Regions from separate parts of the Homo sapiens genome. Here region 2 is linked to region 1. Evidence: fine-mapped QTL for protein levels in blood plasma. Region 1 holds a variant in brackets. A gene starts in the other region. All regions are shown on one strand. Distances are from middle to middle.

Region 1 (8,000 bases):
TAAGAACACCAGTTATATCAGATTAAGGCCCCACTGTCATGAGCTGTTTAACCTTAATTACCCCCGTAAGAGCCATATCTCTAAATACAGTCACATTTGGGATTGAGGCTTCAATATATGAATTTGAGGTGAACACAGTTTAGTCCATGTCAAAGATACATAAATGTTTTAAAGAAATTCTGAGAAATAAACCATAGTCTTTTGTATTTACCTACATAATTACTATTTTTATTGCTTTTCCTTTCTTTCTGAAAATTTGAGTTTCCATGTGATATCTTTTCCCAAGCCTAAAGAACTTGTCTTAGCCTCCGTCTCAAAAAAAAAAAAAAAAAAAAAGAACTTGTCTTAGCATGTCTTACAGTGCAGGTCAACTGGCAAAAGACATTCTCTCTATTTTTTTTCAATGCATTTATTTTATATGCTGCCTTGAAAGATATTTTTGCTCACTATAGAATTCTTGATTTACAGGTTTTTTTTTCCATCAGCACCTTAAAATGTTAGTATTTTCTATTCTGACATTATTATTTCTTATAAGAAGTCAACCATTATTTTTGTCATTCTTTCCCTTTATATAATATGTCATTTTTTTCCTCTGGCTGCTTTCAAATTTTCTCTTAATCTTTGGCTTTTATTACGGTATGGCGTGGTCTTCTTTGGATTCATCTTTCTTGAATTTGTAAGTTGATTCCTTTCACCAAGTTTGGGAAATTTTCAGCATTTAATTTTTTTTTGTTTGTTTCTTCTCCTTGCTCTCTTCCCTCTTACTGTGACTCCAATTCCACATATATGGTACCTTTGGCTATTGTCTCCCATGCCCCTGAGAGACTCAGGGTGTTAATTTTTTCAATATATATTCTCATTCATATTCTCTCTCTCTCTTTCTCTCTCTCTAAGTCTCCCAGTCTAAGTCTCATTCTCACGAGGACACTTTTGTTGGTCATCTCCAATCAGCTCTTAGGCCCATCTACTATATATTTATTTCAGATATTGTATTTAATCAATACTATTACATTTGTATTTTAATAGTTTGTTTCTTTGCTGTTTCCTCTCTGTTTAATAACTATGAGAATATTTTTCTTTTACATCCTTAAGCATTGTTAAAATACCTACTTTAAAATTCTTATCTTCTAACGCCTGTGTCACCTCAGATTTGGTGTTCACTAAGTGGCTTTTCTCTTAAGTATGGATTACATTTTCCTGTTCCTCAATATGTATAATGATTTGGGGTCATATTTTGGACATTGTGATTGATATATTCTAGAGACACTGTATTATTTCTGTTTCTCTTTTGAGTATTGATTTTTTGGTTTAGCAGGCAGTTTATTTGGCTGAACTCAAACTTCAAGTTTTGTTACTCTCCTGTGATGAACATGTCCTAAAATCTCTGTTGCATTATTTTAGCCTTAGCTGGACTACTTCTGGTGTTCCCATGCACATGTAATTGAGAGATCATCCAGAAATTAGGGTAGCATTTATAGGCACAGTGTTGCATTCCCTTTCTATGGCTCTCTCTTTCTGACATCCCCTCCACAACTTACTTCCTAGCTACTATGGTTGCCTTGAACTCTAACCTCTCATTTCTTAATCAGAAAGACTGTGTATTTCTATCTGAGTATTAGTTATCTTGCATGCCACTGACTGGGGTCCACCCATGGGCAAAAATGTATAAAATCAGGAAACACACAAAGTACTGTTTTTTCCTTCCTTGTGTCTACTCCTCTCCAGTTTCTACCTGGTTTTGGCCACTTTCCAGTGTCTTCAGAGAACTATTTGCTGTATTTTGATCAGCATTTTTAATTGTTATCAAAATGTGTCTCATCATTCATTCATTAGAGATGTCAGCATTGCTCTAGGCACTGAGGAGTGGAAAATAATGATGCTCTTGCTTTGAAAGAGCTCAGAGTATAGGGTAAGAGACAGACATATAACTAAGGATTGTAAAAGAACTTGATAGATGCTACAGTAGAGTAAGGATAGAAAATATCTGTGCCTTATATTCCCATTGCCAACCTGTGATCTTTGTCTGCATTTCCTATTCTCCATGCCTGGTCATCTCCCTGTCCTTTATACATTACCAAATTTTTCTTAACTTTTCATCATTTTTCTCTCCAAATCAAAATAATTTTTATGGCCTTTGATCTAATAAAAGTATAAACTCTTATGACATTCAAGACACACTGTCTGCCTTCGCCCTCTTTATTCATCCTTATTTTCACCAGTTTACTAATTCTGTAATTTAACCTACAGTAATCCTATGACCAATGTATGCACAACACAAATAGATACAAATGCAAAGTGTGGTAAGTGCCACCAAGGAGAAGTACATGGTGCTATCTGTGTTTTTCCTGTGGTTCACTCATCCCACATTTATTCCACAAACTTTTATTAACCACCCATGTTATGCCAGGCATGAGGCTAAACCAGTCCGTTACCATTCAAATCATATATGTCTTTCCATTTTCATGTCTCTACTAACCAGCCTCCTTTCTGTCATGCCTTGCCTCTAGCCCTTTACTCCTCCAAACTCTACCTATTTATGGCCTCTCAGCTGAAGCTTCACCTACTCCAACTGTATAATGATTGCCAAATGATTGATCTCTCACTTTGTGCTGCTATGCATCATAACTATTTCTTATTTTTCAGTGTATCTCCGGAACCTAGGTGCACAGTTCCTGGAGGCACATTAGGCATTTAGTAAATACTAAATAACTGCATTCATGCTTACACCACACATGCTAGGTTCTAGCTCACTCCTGGAAGCTCATTTAAATCTCTCTTCTCTGAACTCCTAAAGCACTTCCCATAAAAATTAGCATCAAATCAAGTAATGCCTCTAATTATCCATTACTGTTCCCAGCGAGTTTATCTTGATGCTCTCAGTGGATTGCAAACTCAGGGGATCCAAAGTGTGATGAGGATATGCTTCATCACAGTAATGCAAAGTTGAACCTGAAGGAGATAAATATTCAATAACTGCATGAGTTTTTTTTTTTCATTGAAATGACCAATGTCTTTGATATCATTTTGAAACATTTCCACAAAAACTGCACCAATGGTATTCAACAACGTATACCTGGAAGTTCAGTAGACAATATGACGTGGTGGTTAAGAACAAGGTCTTAAAATATAGAGACTGCAGTTTGAGACCTAGATTTGTCGTTACTTTACTGTGACCTTGGGCAAGATATTCAATCTCTTTGAGCTCAGTTTCCTCATCTCCATAATGAAGAATAGTATCTTCTCCATAGGAGTGCTATAAGGAATAAATGAAATAGAGTAATGTGTGTACAATGCTTAAGTTAGTACTGATGTATGGGAAATGAGTCAGTATATTTCACGTGATATCATTTATACTACTGTTGGCACTATAGTAGTGTATTAGTCCGTTTTCATACTGCTGATACGGACATACCTGAGACTGGGTAATTTATACAGAAAAAGAGGTGTAATGGACCCATAGTTCCACATGGCTGGGGAGGCGTCACAATCATAGCAGAAGGCGAAAGGCATGTCTAACATGGCGGCAGGCAAGAGGGAATGAGAGCCAAGTAAAACAGGAAACCCCTTATGAAACCATCAAATCTCATGAGACTTATTCACTACTACGAAACAGTATGGGGGAAACTGCGCCCATGATTCAGTTGTTTCCCACTGGGTCCCTCCCACAACATGTGAGATTTATGGGAGTTACAATTCAAGATGAGATTTTGGTGGGGACACAGACAAACCATATCAAGCAGACACACTTAACTTCCTAGAAATCCTGTTTAAAAGGAGGCCATGGAAGTTCAAAACAGTTTAGTGACTTGCACAAAGTCACTCAGCTAGTGAGACTCAGAGCCAGAACCCAACCCTGGCCTCTGTGTCTCCTGAACAAATTATCTTCTTTACACAGCCCTAGCTCTCAGGAAACATGCTCAGAGAGCCTATCCCTGTGCAGCCAAAAGACCAAATCTTTTCCTTGTTGGAATGAAAATAAATCTATCAGAATGGTTGTTTTAGCATCCTAGAAACTCAAGTAAACATTCAGAAAATATACAGATGAGGTTCAGGAACTCAAGCACGGTGTTGCTTGGGTGTGTTATGGCAAGCAGAGTAAATGCATGGAGAAACATTTCTGTCCCTGATACATATTTCATACTATTTTGTTTAGAGCCACCAAGTGGATTAAGGAATAAGATCCTAGACCTGGGATTTCAAATGAGAGGTGATTATCTGCAGAGCTCAGACATTTCTGTCCTTGGAGAGCTGTGTTTCCCATGTGATGATTGTTCAGTCAGGAGAGTTTCTCCTGACAGGTCTGGGGCATCTCAATTTTTTTTAACTGAGAGTTTCAAAAAATTTTTTTAAT[G/T]AGGGTTTTTTCAAAAACCCTCATCATAGTCTCTTTCATTCAGCTTCTCCATTAGTAAGACACAGTGAGTAATTCAAGGTTTGACATTGCCCAGGGATGACAGCCTAGATCAAGAAGGGGAAATGATGTGATCCAGAAAAGGTTGGTGCTTTTAACACTCAGACCCCCCCCATTTGACATAAGTTACCCTTCCTTCTCATTCTTGGGCCTGTTGCTAACCTGCTTCTACCAGTTTAGCCTTGGAAATTTCATTTCTGTTTACTCTTCTCTCTAAACTTCTTTGTTTTATGTATTTAAGAGGCTAGCAGTAGGTTAAATCAAAGCTAAATTTCTTTTAGCTGAGGCACTCTTGCTACATTGGCATTTTAATGTTCTTGGAACCCGTATGGACAAAGAGTTGAAAGAAACATATACTCATTTTAATATAAATTTTTCTATCTTATACATAAATTAAAGAAGCTATAAAATTGACCCATGTCTCTTATTTTTCAGATAGACCACATGGTACAAGGCCATGCTGCTTTTCCAGAACTACAAGTAAAGGCCACAGCCAGGTAACTGCTGTCTCTGTTCCCTCTAAAATTTTCCTTGTGTGACTGTATTGAGAGAATTCACGTTGGGCAGTTGGGTGATTTTCAGATCCTACAGACAATGAAAATGCCTGTTAGTGCTTGAAAGATAGTCACCTGGATGATCCAGAAGATAGATGTATTAATTCTTTAAATGAGGTAAGAGAACTTAGAGAACCTAGAGATACCCCAAGAATATACCCAGGGACTATAGATAAGAAACTCTGATGTAGAAGAAGGACCATGGATTCTGGAGTCAAAACTTCTTAGTTTCACATCCCAGCCATACTCCTTAATAGATACAGGACCTTGAGCTAGTTACTTAACCTCTTTATGCCTGTCTCTTCATCTGTAAAACTGAAGATAATAACTGATATGGAGTGATTTCTAGAATATTTTGAAGCAAGCTGAGTGCAAAAAAAATTTACGATATACTCCCTTTCATGTAAAAAGAAAGACATAGGAAAATACATGTGTATCTGTTCATTTTTGCAAAAGAAATATAGGAAGTGGCCAGGTGCGGTGGCTCACTCCTGTAACCCCAGCACCTTGGGAGGCCGAGGCGGGCAGATCACGAGTTCAGAGATCGAGACCAGCCTGGCCAACATGGTGAAACCCCATCTCTACTAAAAATACAAAAGTTAGCCGGGCATGGTGATGTATGCCTATAATCCCAGTTACTTGGGAGGTTGAGGCAGGAGAATTGCTCAAACCCGGGAGGTGGAGGTTGCAGTGAGCAGAGATCGTGCCACTGCACTCCAGCCTGGGCAATAAAGTGAGACTCCGTCTCAAAAAAAAAAAAGAAATACAGGAAGTTTAAACCAGAAAATAATAAGATTAGTTACCTACAGGGGGTGGGTAGGAATGGGGTGGAAAGAATGTGGGAATGGGACCATGGTAGTAGGAAGAAATGACACTTCTCTGAGTATACCTTTTTATATAACTATAACTCTTAGAATTATTGTCATGCCTCATGTCCCTGATACCCCGATAAAATAGGTGATAGATAACCAGGATATATGTGTATGTTGGCATGGGCAAAATGAAATGCACACAGTAAAAACTGAACCTACTGTATTACAAAGGGGGTTGGGAAAAGAAAAGAAAGGAAAAGAAAAAAGAAAAGAACCTAAGTAAATTTGGGAAAGAATATTTTGACTATATGCCATATGGCTAAAGAGAAAAATAACCATACATAAATATTATACTCTAATTGGTAAATCTGTTTTTCATAGGTGTATATGTTAGCTATAGTGACAACTCTTTATGTGTATGCTACAGTTGAGTGAAGAAATCAATATATTGTGGATAATAAGAGCCAGGTTCCTCACAAATGGGAAAAGGAGAAGGTTAGAATGAACCTCATGGTGTCAATATCAACTTATGATTTTATATATATATATATATATATATATATATATATATACACACACACACACACACACAGCTGGATATAAATATAAGTAAATATAGATATGTATATTCATGCATGAATATACATGCATATACTCCCTAGGTCTCTCTGCTGAGATGGCTTGGAAGCAATGACACGATAGTAGCAATGTGTGTACCTAGCTCACAGGTACTGTATTCTAAGTACCATTCTCCCATTTCTCCAATAAAAGTAATCAGGACTTCTTAGAAAGATGGCTGAGTCTACGCTGCGGCAGTAAAATTATGGTGCCAGAAAGAAAAAAGTTACTCAACAAGGAATTGTCAAGGTACATTGGAACCAACTTTAAGAATCTCTCAGTGGCCTACTCAGGATAAAATAAACAGTAATAGCGTAAAGTAAGTCCATAAGTAAATAACTTTGTAAGTAAACTACTGAAGAAGGAAATAAACGAGGACGAAATGACAGGTCTTCCTCTTCACTGTCAGGACAGTAGCCTTACAATTAATAAATGTAGAAGAAATAATGGAAATAGATAATCAACATTAGGTAAACACTACAGAGATAAATGTTGTAGGCAAGAATCATTAATGGATGCTAAAATTAGTGAGTAAAAGTGGGAAGCAGGATATTTTCATAAACCCAGAGGATTTCAGTACAAGATACTGAGTAATAGGAAGAGGAAAATAATAACTTTCCAGTAGTATATAAGTATGGCAGACACCACCTTACCCAAGTGATGAAAGTAAACAACACCAGCAATAACATGTAGTGATATCATGTATCTCCTTTTATGAGGCACCGATAAAGATACAACATCATTTCTGCCATGTTCTTGCCCAAAATGATTAAACTCAGTGTAAATATGGGAAGCATCAGACAAACCTAGATTGACATTCCACAAAGCTATTAGCCAGTTTGCTCCAAAGGAAAATTAAGAAACTTAAATACTGAAGAACTGTCCTAGATTGGAGGAGACTTAAGGAGGTACTACAGCTGTAAGCAGTATATAATCATGGATTCAACTCTGGACCAGAGAAAGGACATTGGTGGAGGAAAACTGTTGAAATTCAAATAGAGATTAATAGTATTGTTATTTATGGCAATTTCTTAGGTGATGAGTAAAAGGGAACTCTGTGTATTATTTTTGTAACTTTTGTGTAAATCTAAAATTATTTTGAAATAAAAAGTCTAAAAAATAATGAATGGATTTTCATGCTGATAATGCTTAGTTGTCAGGCTGTTTAAGTAAAGTAAGATATTTTTATAGAATTATCAGAGAAACCCATGTAGCTAGCTAGCACAGGACAAAAGAGAGATAGTCTAAGGTGGCCACTAATAGACTCTGAAGCCAAATTGCCTTTGCCTCAGCTTTGTCGCTTATTCACTTTCTGTTTCTGGGCTATTTACTTAACCTCTGTGCCTTAGTACCTCACTGTAAAGGGAATAATAGTAAACATTTCATAAGGTTGTTGAGAAAATTAAATGAATTAGAATAATGGGTGATACAGAGTGATGATTAAGAGTCAGGCTGTAATAGGTGTTCAACTAAAAAAATGGTAATGATAAAAATTACTGTTGGGGAACATCACACACCGAGGCCTGTCGTGGGATGGGGGGATAGGGGAGGGATAGCATTAGGAGAAATACCTAATGTAAATGACGAGTTAACGGGTGCAGCAAACCA
Region 2 (11,945 bases), 99 Mb after region 1:
TGTGGGGTTTCCGTAATGGGGAAGTAGGCAGAGGGCAAGGTTTCTGCTGGGAGGAAGGGATGACAGAGCTGTGTGGGGTGGGAACATGACACTGGAGTTCTGAGGAAATCTCTCTCTCTCTCGGGGTGCAAAAGTCACCCACTAGAGTGGTCTTAGGGAAGTGACAGGCAAGAAGAGCCCAGGCGAAGGCAAACACAACAACGTCTGTGGTCTGAGCAAAAGGACAAGAAAAGGGAAGTTGGGGAAGGACAGGAAGAGCACTGGGCTCCCTCGGGACAACCCAGCCCCTCTGTTCAGGCTGGGTTCTAATCATAGGGTGTCCTACCCACTTCAGATTATTCTCTTAGGATTTTGTGTGTTCAGAGAGCTTAATAACCACTTACTCCTCTCCCCATTGCATTTTATATCAATTTCAGATTCTTGCATCTATATTTATAAGTATTCACCAGTGTAAAGAGTCTGCCAGTTTCCCTTCTTACACTACCTCCACCCTTCCTTTTTAGGGATAGATGTACATAAACTCTTGTGTATAAAATTGTCATACTTAGGAGTCTGGGTTATTTTTCATGAAAGCAATTTGAATATTTTAGGCTGATAGACATTCTAAGGATCACGTTTTCCATGGCAGCTCTGGGGCAGAGCACTGCATGGACATGGAGGGATATGGACTGTGACACACCGGCAGGGACTGTGGCTGTGATCTCTGTCCCACAGGATGAAAGCAGGACTACATATCAGTCAGATCAGAGAGGAAAAACCAGGTGGAGGGAGAGAAATGACATGGTGACTGTGTGGAGCAAAGGAGAGGGAAGTTTTCGGAGAACACACATTTCTAGGTATCTATTTGAATGCGTATTGCCATGATGGGGGTGAGGGTGTTACTTACTCTTCTAGGCACCCTGAGGGGGAATTTCCCATAAATACTTTTTGTTTTTTTTTCCTCACCCCTTAATCTTTCCTCTGAAAACAGACTGATTTATCTCACTGATAAATTCAGGAGGGAAACTGGGCAAGTATATATCAGCACCTCCTACTGCCCTTTACCTCTCTGGGCAAGTTGCTCCCCAAAGGCTCAGTCTTGCTCTCCTCCTCCAGGCCCTGGCTCTCACAGGAACAGCTGCTCAGGTGGGGAACTTAGGGTTTTATCAGCATTGCCTGAAATAAGTGAGTGTATTAGTCTTCTTGGGCTGTGCTAACACAAGGCAATCAGCTGGGTGGCTTAAACAACAGGAAGTTATTCTCTCACAGCTCTAGAGGCTAGAAGTTCAAAGTCTCCATCTGGAAGACTCAGTTTCTAGTGAAGGTTCTCTTCCTGGTTTATACAGACAACTGCCTTCTCACTATGAGCTCATATGGCCTTTCCATGGTGGGTGCACACACACACACACACACAGAGACAGAGAGCGACAGGGAGAGACAGAGAGACAGAGAAGGAAAGTGGAAGGGCACTCCAGTGTCTCTTCTTATAAGGACACTAAGCCTATTGGATCAGGGTCTTACCGTTTAGACATGAGATTGACATTACTTCTTAGAGGCCCCATTTCCAAATATAATCACACTGAGAGTTAGGGATTCAACATGTGATTTTTTTTTTCTTTGGGAGGGTACACAAACTTTCAGTCCATAACAATGAGAAGGCCACTCCATTTAGGGTCCAGTATGAGCAAGATCACTTGGATTACACACTTAAAGCAAATTATCTAGTGGCACTATCAGAAGTCAAGATTGACCATTAGATCCATCTATCTCATGTTATTTTCAACTTGTTTGCTTCTGAATTCAAGAGGGCAAAAAGGATGATACTTACTGGGTTTTATAATATTATCCAATATAGCTAGGTTATGTTGCAGTTATAAATAAACTTTAGAACTTGGAGGCTTAACACAATGAAGTTTATTTCTCATGCAGTTAAACTGCATGTAGATCAGGCTGCTCTTCTCCATCTCATAGTCTTGCCATTTAGAAATTTGACTGCCAAGTTGGTACCACAGGGTAAGATGATCAGATGTGATATTTTCAGTGGTCAGGACTGGAGCTGGCTAATGCTTCCAACACCACACATTCCATTGCCCAGAACTCAGTCCATGACCTTAACCCAACTATTAGGAAATAGGACAGTTGCATCTTTCCTGTAGGAACATGGAAAAAAATGTGAATAAACACATAATGTGGTATCTACTATTGTTTTCTAAAACCACAAACCAAGTATTTGCCATTAACAGCACAAGATGAGCAAAGATAACACCTAGTGCTTATGAATGATTTGGGTAGGATTTGAACTGGGTATTGCTCTTAAAGATATTATAGTTCATAGAAATTGCCACATATCTGTGGCCATGATAGGAAGAGCTCATTGAGAATGACTTCTGGCCTCACTATTAACGTTGACAAACCTAAGAAATAGTGTATATATCAAAGTATCATGTTGTACACAGTAAATACATAGAATAAATATAAATTTAAAACAGAAACAATGTTACAAATGGGATTTTCCTTTTTAAGGCACGGTCTTGCTCTGTTACCCAGGCTGGAGTACAGTGACATGAACATGGCTCACTACAGCCCTGACTTTCAGGGCTCAAAAGATCTTCCTGCCTCTGCCTCCCATTTAGCTGGGACTACAGGCATGTGCCACCACATTTGGCCAACTTTTTAATTTTTTTATCGAGATGAGGTCTAACTTTGTTGCCCAGGCTGGTCTCAAACTCCTGGGCTCAAGTGATCTTCCCACCTTGGTCTCCCAAAGTGCTGGGATTACAGGCATGAGTCATTGTGCCTAGCACAAATTCATGCCCAGATTTTAAGTGACTGCTCCAATGCATTCAGTGAATAATTAATATGATTTAAGAAACACTATAATAATAAATGTATTTCCTGGATCTCAAAAAAACTGTGTTCATGTATTTACACATATTAACCAGCCAGGGTCACTGATAAGTCACTGAATACTTCATATAAACTACTTAAATCAAACATTGACAAATGCTGCCCTTTTTATACAATGTGTTTTGGTCAGATCACAAAACAACTTAAATTTGGATTTTTGTGGTCTCCCCATGTATGAGTCCTCTTGAAAAGCTGCATGTTCTGACTATCACAATCGTATACCATTCCACACTGTACAGAATTTTCAGTATTTAGTTGAGATGCATGCTGTTCTTCCAGGACTTCAAATTATGAACTTCCCAGGGGGTTAGTCAGTCAAAATGCTGCTCTAGAGAATATAGTTCTAAGTAGATTTGTATCTGGGATTCTATACATTGAAATTAAAATCACAATGCATTTTAATTTTTTGTTTAAACATCTGCAGTTTAAAACTCTTTGATAGAAGAGATTACATTGTTAACCTCTGTGTGTTTATATGCCTAGTAAGACACTGGTATCAACCATGTACTATGTAATTTTTTAGTGAATGACTATACAGATTAAATGCAGTAGAAGGGCTTCTTTATATTTGTTATGGTCCTATGCATTCTGAATGGCTGCAATTTAATCTCTAAGGATAATGTAGAGTGGACTGTAGTTTATATAATTGTGCAGGGAAATCTTGGAAGATGTAAAAAGCAACGTCTCCAATTTATAAAAGAATCAGTGAGAATGAGGAAATAAGAAAGATGGGTGAAAAGAGGTGAAATTGGAAAGAGAAAACTTTGAGGACATTCAAAAGGGGGAAAGAAAGAATGGAGTGATGAGAAGAGGGGACACTATGGAGAGTGGAGGCAAAGTTAAGTGGAGAAACTGGAAGAACTGTGATCTATTAAAACAAGCAGGAACTGAAAAAATGACATGGTTTCTCCTTTTTATCTTACAAATGACATGCAAAATCCAGAGGGACAAAATGACCTTTCTTTCAATGCCATACACCACTTTGTCTAAGGCAGTTGAGGAAGGGAAGTAGATATAATGGAGCTTAGTGGCAGAGCAGCTGGAATCCTGAGAGAAGAGAATAACTTTAGTTCAGAGCAGGTGGGGAAATGAGAGATTGAGTAGGAGGACCAAGGTTGAGGGAAGCAGATCTTCTTAGTTGCTGTCAGCGGCTGATGGGGAAGATTGTTGGTAGAAGGAAGTCAGAATATAGGTACAGAGGGATAAGTTTGCTAAGAACAGAGATCAGCAAACAGCTTTTCTGAGAGAAAGAAACATCTGCAAATGACATGCTGTTTCTGCAGTTTCTGCTGCTAGCTCTTCTTCTCCCAGGTGGTGACAATGCAGACGGTAAGAACATCGCTGTCAGCTGCAAGGTTACATGTATCTGGGTAGAGTGTGCTGGGCTTTCCCGAGATGGATCAATAGAGATGCCAGAATGCTTGCCATCTGAGCATACCTGTCTCCAGGTCCAGTTTACTCTTTTGGAGGATGGTGGCAGAGCATGGGCTCTGTGTAAGGAAAATGTTATAGCTAAAGTAGTCATTAATGTTTCTCTGTGGTAACTGGTTCAATTTCCATTTCCTCTCCATTTTCCGTTAAAACAATCAGGGCCCAGGAAAATGATGTGGTTTCTCCTTTTTATGTTACAAATGACACGCAAGGTCCAGAGGGATGAAGCAACCTTTCAATGCCACGCACCACTTTGTCTAAGGCAGTTGAGGAAGGGAAGTAGATAAGATGGAGCTTAGTGGGAGAGCAGCTAAAATCCTAAGGGAAGAGAGTAACTTTAGTTCAGAGCAGATGGGGAAATGAGAGATTGAGTAGGAGGCCTAAGGTTAAGGGAAGCAGATTGTCTTAGTTGCTGTCAGTGGCTGATGGGGAAGATTGTCTGTTGGTAGAAGGAAGTCAGAATATAGATGTAGAGGGATAAGTTTGCTAAGAACAGAGATCAGCAAATGGCTTTTCTGAGAGAAGGAAACAACTGCAAATGACATGCTGTTTCTGTAGTTTCCGCTGCTAGTTCTTCTCCTCCCCGGTGGTGACAATGCAGATAGTATGAACATCTCTGTCAGCTGCAAGGTTACATGTATCTGGGTTGAGCATGATGGGCTTTCCCAAGATGGATCAATGAAGAAGCCAGAATGGTTGCCATTTGAGCATACCTCTCTCCAGGTCCAGTTTACTCTTTTAGAGGATGGTGGCAGAGCATGGGGCTCTGTGTAAGGAAAATGGTATAGCTAAAGTAGTCATTAATGTTTCTCTGTGGTAACTGGTTCACCTTCCATTTTCTCTCCATTTTCCTTGCCTCTCTTTTTTTTTTTTTCCTTACACTACTTGCCCTTCTTCCACCAAAAGCATCCCAGGAACACGTCTCCTTCCATGTCATCCAGATCTTCTCATTTGTCAACCAATCCTGGGCACGAGGTCAGGGCTCAGGATGGCTGGACGAGTTGCAGACTCATGGCTGGGACAGTGAATCAGGCACAATAATTTTCCTGCATAACTGGTCCAAGGGCAACTTCAGCAATGAAGAGTTGTCAGACCTAGAGTTGTTATTTCGTTTCTACCTCTTTGGATTAACTCGGGAGATTCAAGACCATGCAAGTCAAGATTACTCGAAATGTAAGTTCAATCATCTAAATTATGGGAGTTCTTTAGAATGTTCTATTTCAGGGAAATATTCTCTACTAATTTTTGGGCCATTTCCCATTATCCCATCCCACCATAAAATTCTGCATAGATGAACCTTTTAAGGGATATTCCTGATGTTGACTCCCTCAAATTTCCTAGGCTCTTGCTATTTTTGGAATTTTTTTTCTTGTGCTTTGTTATCTTCCACCTGTGGTCTCCCTCTGTATCCTACAATCCAGAGATACACAGCTGTCCCACTCTGTGCTTGACTCCCTTAAAATAAAATCTATTCCCCCATTCAATTTCTTCAAAGATCTATGTCCACAGTTCAATGACCATTATGACCAATTTCATGCGTCATGGAATGCTATCCTCCTACCTCCCTCACAAAGGCTCCCCCTTCACCCTCTATCCTATATTATGTGGCTCACCTATCATTTTTCCACATCTTCCTTGGCCACTTTTTCTTGTTAATTCAAGGCATTTATCTCTTATTGTCCCCTTCCCTATCCCCAGCAATTTTTCTCTCTTGTTTCTGATCAAATATGTCTTTGGCTCACTCTCACATCCATGTAAAACTTTCTTGCTTCACTTCCTGATACAGCCCTAGGTTTTTATACTGTTGTTTTCACTTTTTTGTTTGAACTCTTTTTCTCATTCCTCCCTTCCTCCAGATCCCTTTGAAGTACAGGTGAAAGCGGGCTGTGAGCTGCATTCTGGAAAGAGCCCAGAAGGCTTCTTTCAGGTAGCTTTCAACGGATTAGATTTACTGAGTTTCCAGAATACAACATGGGTGCCATCTCCAGGCTGTGGAAGTTTGGCCCAAAGTGTCTGTCATCTACTCAATCATCAGTATGAAGGCGTCACAGAAACAGTGTATAATCTCATAAGAAGCACTTGCCCCCGATTTCTCTTGGGTCTCCTGGATGCAGGGAAGATGTATGTACACAGGCAAGGTCAGTAGTTTCAGCCCCTTCCTCTAAGATTTTTCTATTCAAGTACTGCCCCTTCTGTTCCCACCCTTCAAACTCAGGACAAGAAAGAGGACAAGAAGCAGGGGGGTTGCTGGGTAATAGTTTCTTAGAGGCAGGAAAAAGATAACTGTGCATATTCATGTGGATGTGTGTATGTGGATGTAAGTTGTGTGTAAGTTTCTTCATCAGAACACTTTTTCTGCTCTCTGCAGTGAGGCCAGAAGCCTGGCTGTCCAGTCGCCCCAGCCTTGGGTCTGGCCAGCTGTTGCTGGTTTGTCATGCCTCCGGCTTCTACCCAAAGCCTGTTTGGGTGACATGGATGCGGAATGAACAGGAGCAACTGGGCACTAAACATGGTGATATTCTTCCTAATGCTGATGGGACATGGTATCTTCAGGTGATCCTGGAGGTGGCATCTGAGGAGCCTGCTGGCCTGTCTTGTCGAGTGAGACACAGCAGTCTAGGAGGCCAGGACATCATCCTCTACTGGGGTAAGACTGGAGGTTGGAAGTGTAGGTAGGTGGTTCTTGAGCCTAGAGGTTAGGGGAGAGGAAATTTTGAGGATAGCAGACCTAGGTGAGGGATTGTAGGAAGAAATGTATAGGGTAATTTAAAGAATAGTGGAGTAAGACCTAAGGGATACATGGATACTAGAGATTTAAGGGGAAATGAGGAATCCTTCCTTGAGTAAGTTTTGGAATAGAGTGACTGAAATAGGATAACTGATGCAACTCATCCAATGCATATGTTAAGTAAGGAAATCAATAGATGGAATAGAATCAGCAGTGAGTTTAAAATGGCATCCATGTATCTTTCCAATATGTGCAGGACACCACTTTTCCATGAATTGGATTGCCTTGGTAGTGATAGTGCCCTTGGTGATTCTAATAGTCCTTGTGTTATGGTTTAAGAAGCACTGGTGAGTTTTTTGTATTTCCTCCTCTCCTCCCAGTTTCTTATTTCACATTCCATTTTTCACTCTCTTAGCTTTTCTCTATTGACTACTCCACCTTATCCTCAGTTACCACCTCCAACTTATTCAGGGTTTCTCCCATTCCTGTTCCTTCACAGCTCATATCAGGACATCCTGTGAGACTCTTCCCCCTGACTCCCCCATTGTGTTAAGAACCCAGCAACCCAGGAGCCTAGTACAATATAGTGATGCCATCCCGTCGACTCTCCATTTAAATTGTTTCTCTTTCTGCATAATAAACATTTGTTAATAAAAACCAAATTCTAATTTGGAATGTTTTTCTTGGAATCTCCACTTTTTATATAGCACTCAACCTTCAAAGCCCATTTCTGATGTCATTTCCTCCAACGATCTTCCTTGACCCATACTGAACCCAGAGAGCCCCTCAACTGTTATGTGCATGCAACACTTCCTACCCTGTGTTGCAGCTACTTGAGTCTTTCATTTCACATTTTTAAGCTTTTAGGAGGCAAGGATCATGATAAATGTGCCTTTCCTGCATATGATAGGCTCAGTGAAACACAAAACAAAACATCATATCTAAGTTGGATTAACTGTCATGTTGACAATTTTTCTCATTATATTCCTTCCCAATGTTGTTGTAGCATTGGAAATATTCATGCTTCTCTTTTTGTTTAAATGCTTCATACCTAGCAGATAAATTCCACTCTCCTTTAGCTCCCTCATTTTCTCCTTAAACATTTAAGGAAAAGTGCAGCCTTGTGCCTTGATACACTTATTTTCTAAACACAGAGAATTACAAATGCAAATAGACAGAGAGTGTGCAAGTTACATGTGATGATCAGTGGTGCAGATATGTCACAGAATACTTAAGAAAAGGAACAAGAGATTTGGTCCTCAGGGTTGGAGTGGGATCAAGGCAACCGTTGTGCTGTATATGGAAGACAAATTTCCTAAAGGACTGTGTTATCTGAGATAGCCTTGGCTAAACTTTAGTCCCTTTAGGTTTCATTCACTAATTCAACTAATATTTTTTGGGTACTGAGTTGAGACAGGCACATACAGCTTCTAAACTGGTGGTGGATAAAACAAATGAGATTGTGTCCACTCTCCTGAAGTTGCAATGTTTGCTTCCTCAATCTGTCCATGTTTCTTTTCTATTGTTTTCATGTTTTTATTTATTTCAAAAAATTTTAAATAGATTTTATTGATGTATAATTTATAGTAAAATTTGAATCTTTAAGTGTACAGTTCTATTTATTTTGATAATTATATAAGCCCATGTAAACAAAATCACAATCAAGATATTAAATGTCATAACCCCTCATACCTGTTTGTAGTCAAGCACACCAACAACCTGGCATTCTTGCAACTACTGATATACTTTATGTCACTTAAGCTTAAACTTGTATTTTCTATGATTTTATTAAGATGGAAATAAACATATCTACTTGGTATTGCCTTTTATTTTTCTTCAGTTTAGCATATGGTTGTAAGTAATCCATGCTGCTCAGTGTATTAGTAACCATTCCTTTTCATTGCTGAATAGAATTCCATGTATGAATATAACTTTTTTTGGAGGAGGAGGTGGCTTCCCAGATCTGGCAGGGCCTTTGTCTCCTTGTGCCCACTCACCCAGCTTGGGTCCTGCTTCCATTGCTCATTTCCTTGGCACCAGGAGGCCCTAGGTGACTCTCCTGCACCCTTAGTCACCCTGTGACCTGCAGATACAGAGAGATCAATAGAGAGGATTCTAGGACACCCAGGAAACTGGGAAATAAAGCCAAAAATATATAAAATTAAACTTATTTTTGGGAGAAGAGACAAGATGGCTGACTAGATGCAGCCAGGAAGAGCTTCTCCCACCAAGAGACAAGACCATCAAGAAGAGCAGTATACTCTGAGAAGATCATTGGAAAGAAGGCATTGAGAGTGGATGGAGGGAGAATGCAGACCCTGGGCTGAAGGGGGGAAGAAGCTGCGAACCCTACACAGGGTTGCCAAACACTAGGACTTATTCTTGGTCCTCAGTGGCTTCTAGGGAAGGGGTTGGTTAAATAGGCATGAAGTGGCCCACTCTATCCATGAACCTCTGGAATCCTAGCTGCAGGAGACCCCCACGACCCACACAGACATTTGAGTTGGCAGGGAAAGCTACTTGCAGAGTTGGCAGGGACAGGACTCCAGCTTCTATGGAACCCAGAGGGTTTGGTGTGAGAACAGCTACAGTGGAGCATGGTTAGGGATGTCCATTACCCGAGGATTGGCATGCTCCTCTAGGTGGCTTTGACCCCTTTGTTGACTATCAGACCTGGACAGAATAGGGCTACCATGATATTTGGATGGGGCTAGACTGATCTGAGCCCCCCACCCCATGTCTGCTGGCCTCTCCCAGGATCCCTGCCTGTCTGTACCTGCTTGCAGCACAGCCTCAGATGTTCAACTGAGGCAGTTCTCAGAGACCACTGCCATAGGTCTTTCACTGGCTGACCCCACCAAACCACCAAATAGCTTCTGTCACTGGCCTCACATCAGCATGCACCTGCCTTCAGCACCCACAACTGCTTTGCTGGCATACATACACAGACATCACTGCCTTGCTACCACTTCTGTGCACATATGCATGGAGACCTCACCACTGCTGCACTGTCCCCACTAGCCTACATGCGTGCATGTACCCTGCCACACTACCATCCCTGGTGTACATGTGCATGGACCTTCTACCCTGCTGCCCCACCACCACCAGCATGTGAGTGAGTGTGGACCCCACCATGCCACTGCCCCACTGCTGCCAGTACATGCATGTGAGAGCAGACCCCCACCGCCACTGCCCTTATGAAATGCTTTTCTGGGACCCCCCCACCCTGCCCACCATAGGAGTGTTGTTGCTAGTGGACTGGGAGCACCTTGGCCCCCTCCAGTGAAGCAGGTGCTCAGTCTCAAGGGGCCAAAGAACAAGGTTCTGGGCCTGGTCCCAGGCCCTCAGTCTTAGAGCATATAGCCCAGGAGTGCTGAGCTGAGCCATGGCCCCCTGAAATCATCAAGAAATAAAGCTAGCTCACTGACCCAAACCTATACCATAGTCAAAGCCTCAAGGGCATCAAAGAATATAAAAGCAAAAGGCCCCATCAAAAGGACAGCAACTTTAAACGTTTAAGGAACATCAGCCCACATAGATGAGAAAGAACCCGTGGAAGAACTCAGGCAGCTCTAAAAGTCAGAGTGTCTTCTTACTTCCAAATGAACACACTAGCTCCCCAACAATCTTTCCTAACCAGACTAAAATGGCTGAGATAATAGACATAGATTTTAGAATCTGGATGGCAATGAAAATCATGAGATTCAGGAGAAAGTTGAAATGGAATCCAAAGAATTTAAGGAATCCAGTAAAATAATACAATAACTGAAAGACAAAATAGCCATTTTAAGAAAGAACTAAGCTGATTTGACAGAGCTAAAAAATTCACTAAAGAATTTTATAATACAATTGGAAGTATTAAAGGCAGAATAGACCACACTGAGGGAAGAATCTCAGAGCTCAAAGACCAGTTCTTCTAATTAACTCAGTCACACAAAATAAAGAAAAAATAATACAGAAGGATGAACAAAATCTCTGAGAAATATGAGGTTATGTAAAGAGACCAAACCTGTACTCACTGATGTCCCTGAAAGAGAGAGAGAGAGAGTGTGCAAACAATTGAAAACATATATGAGGATATTGTCCATGACAATTTTCTCAACTTCACTATAGAGGTCAACATTCAAATTCAAGAAATTCAGAGAACTCCTGAGAGATACTACACTAGAAAACCATCCTCAAGATACACAATAATAAGATTATCCAAGGTCAATGTGAAAGAAAAAAATACTAAAGGCAACCAGAGAGGAGGAGCAGGTCACCTACAAAGGGACCCCAATCAAGCTAACAGCATACCTTTCAGCAGAAACCTTAGAAGCCAGAAGACATTGAGGGCCTATATTCAGCATTGTTAAAGAAAAGAAATTCTGACCCAAAATTTCATATCCAGCCCAAGTAAGATTTATATGTTAAAGAGAAATTCAGCAAAGCAAATGCTAAGGAAATTTATTACCACCAGACCTGCCTTATAAGAAGTCATTAAGGGAGTGCTAAACATGGAAATAAAAGACTCTTACCAGCCACCACATAAATGCACTTAAGTAAACAGACCAGTGACACTATAAAGGAACTACACAATTAAGTCTACATAACAACCAGCTAACAATAATGACAAAATCAACTTCTCACTTATCAATATTTACCTTGAAGGTAAATGAGCTAAACACCCCAAGACACAGAGTGGCAAGTTGAATAAAGAAACAAGACCCTGGCTCATGCCTGTAATCCTAACACTTTGAGGCTAAGGCAGGCCGATTGCTTGATCCTATGAGTTTGAGACCAACCTAGGCAACATGGAAAAACCCCATTTCTACAAAAAAACCAAGAAAATTAGCTAAGAATGGTGGCACATGCCTGTAGTCCCAGCTACTGAGGAGGCTGAGGTAGGAGGATCACCCAA

Which allele goes with the higher level. Alleles are on the strand shown, and positions count from the first base shown. The strength of an association depends on the size of the effect and on how common the allele is.
With allele G in place of T in region 1, the plasma level of the protein whose gene starts at base 4,013 in region 2 is higher (weak association).

What was found. A credible set is the group of variants that fine-mapping cannot tell apart. PIP is the chance, under the fine-mapping model, that this variant and not a neighbour inherited with it causes the effect. Protein levels are from antibody-based Olink assays in UK Biobank. Linkage for the fine-mapping came from a reference panel and not from the study's own genotypes, which makes the PIPs less certain.
Region 2: it holds the start of CD1C, and the variant in region 1 is the best candidate, but not a certain one, in a credible set for the plasma level of the CD1C protein (UK Biobank, PIP 0.58).

Annotation. Positions count from the first base shown.
Region 1 is chr1:59,621,145-59,629,144 of GRCh38, forward strand. FGGY (FGGY carbohydrate kinase domain containing) reads left to right here. Exons shown (of 16, transcript NM_018291.5): 10 at 4,844-4,905. Among named protein-coding and RNA genes, the nearest start is that of MIR4711, 110 kb to the right of the region's middle. The variant G/T (reference allele first, on the strand shown) is at 4,352.
Region 2 is chr1:158,285,911-158,297,855 of GRCh38, forward strand. CD1C (CD1c molecule) reads left to right here and starts at 4,013. Exons shown (of 6, transcript NM_001765.3): 1 at 4,013-4,215; 2 at 5,224-5,490; 3 at 6,174-6,455; 4 at 6,686-6,964; 5 at 7,302-7,392; 6 at 7,545-8,864. The coding sequence starts at 4,155. The coding sequence ends at 7,566. It also overlaps a transcript of CD1B not described here. RefSeq lists an enhancer at 934-1,063.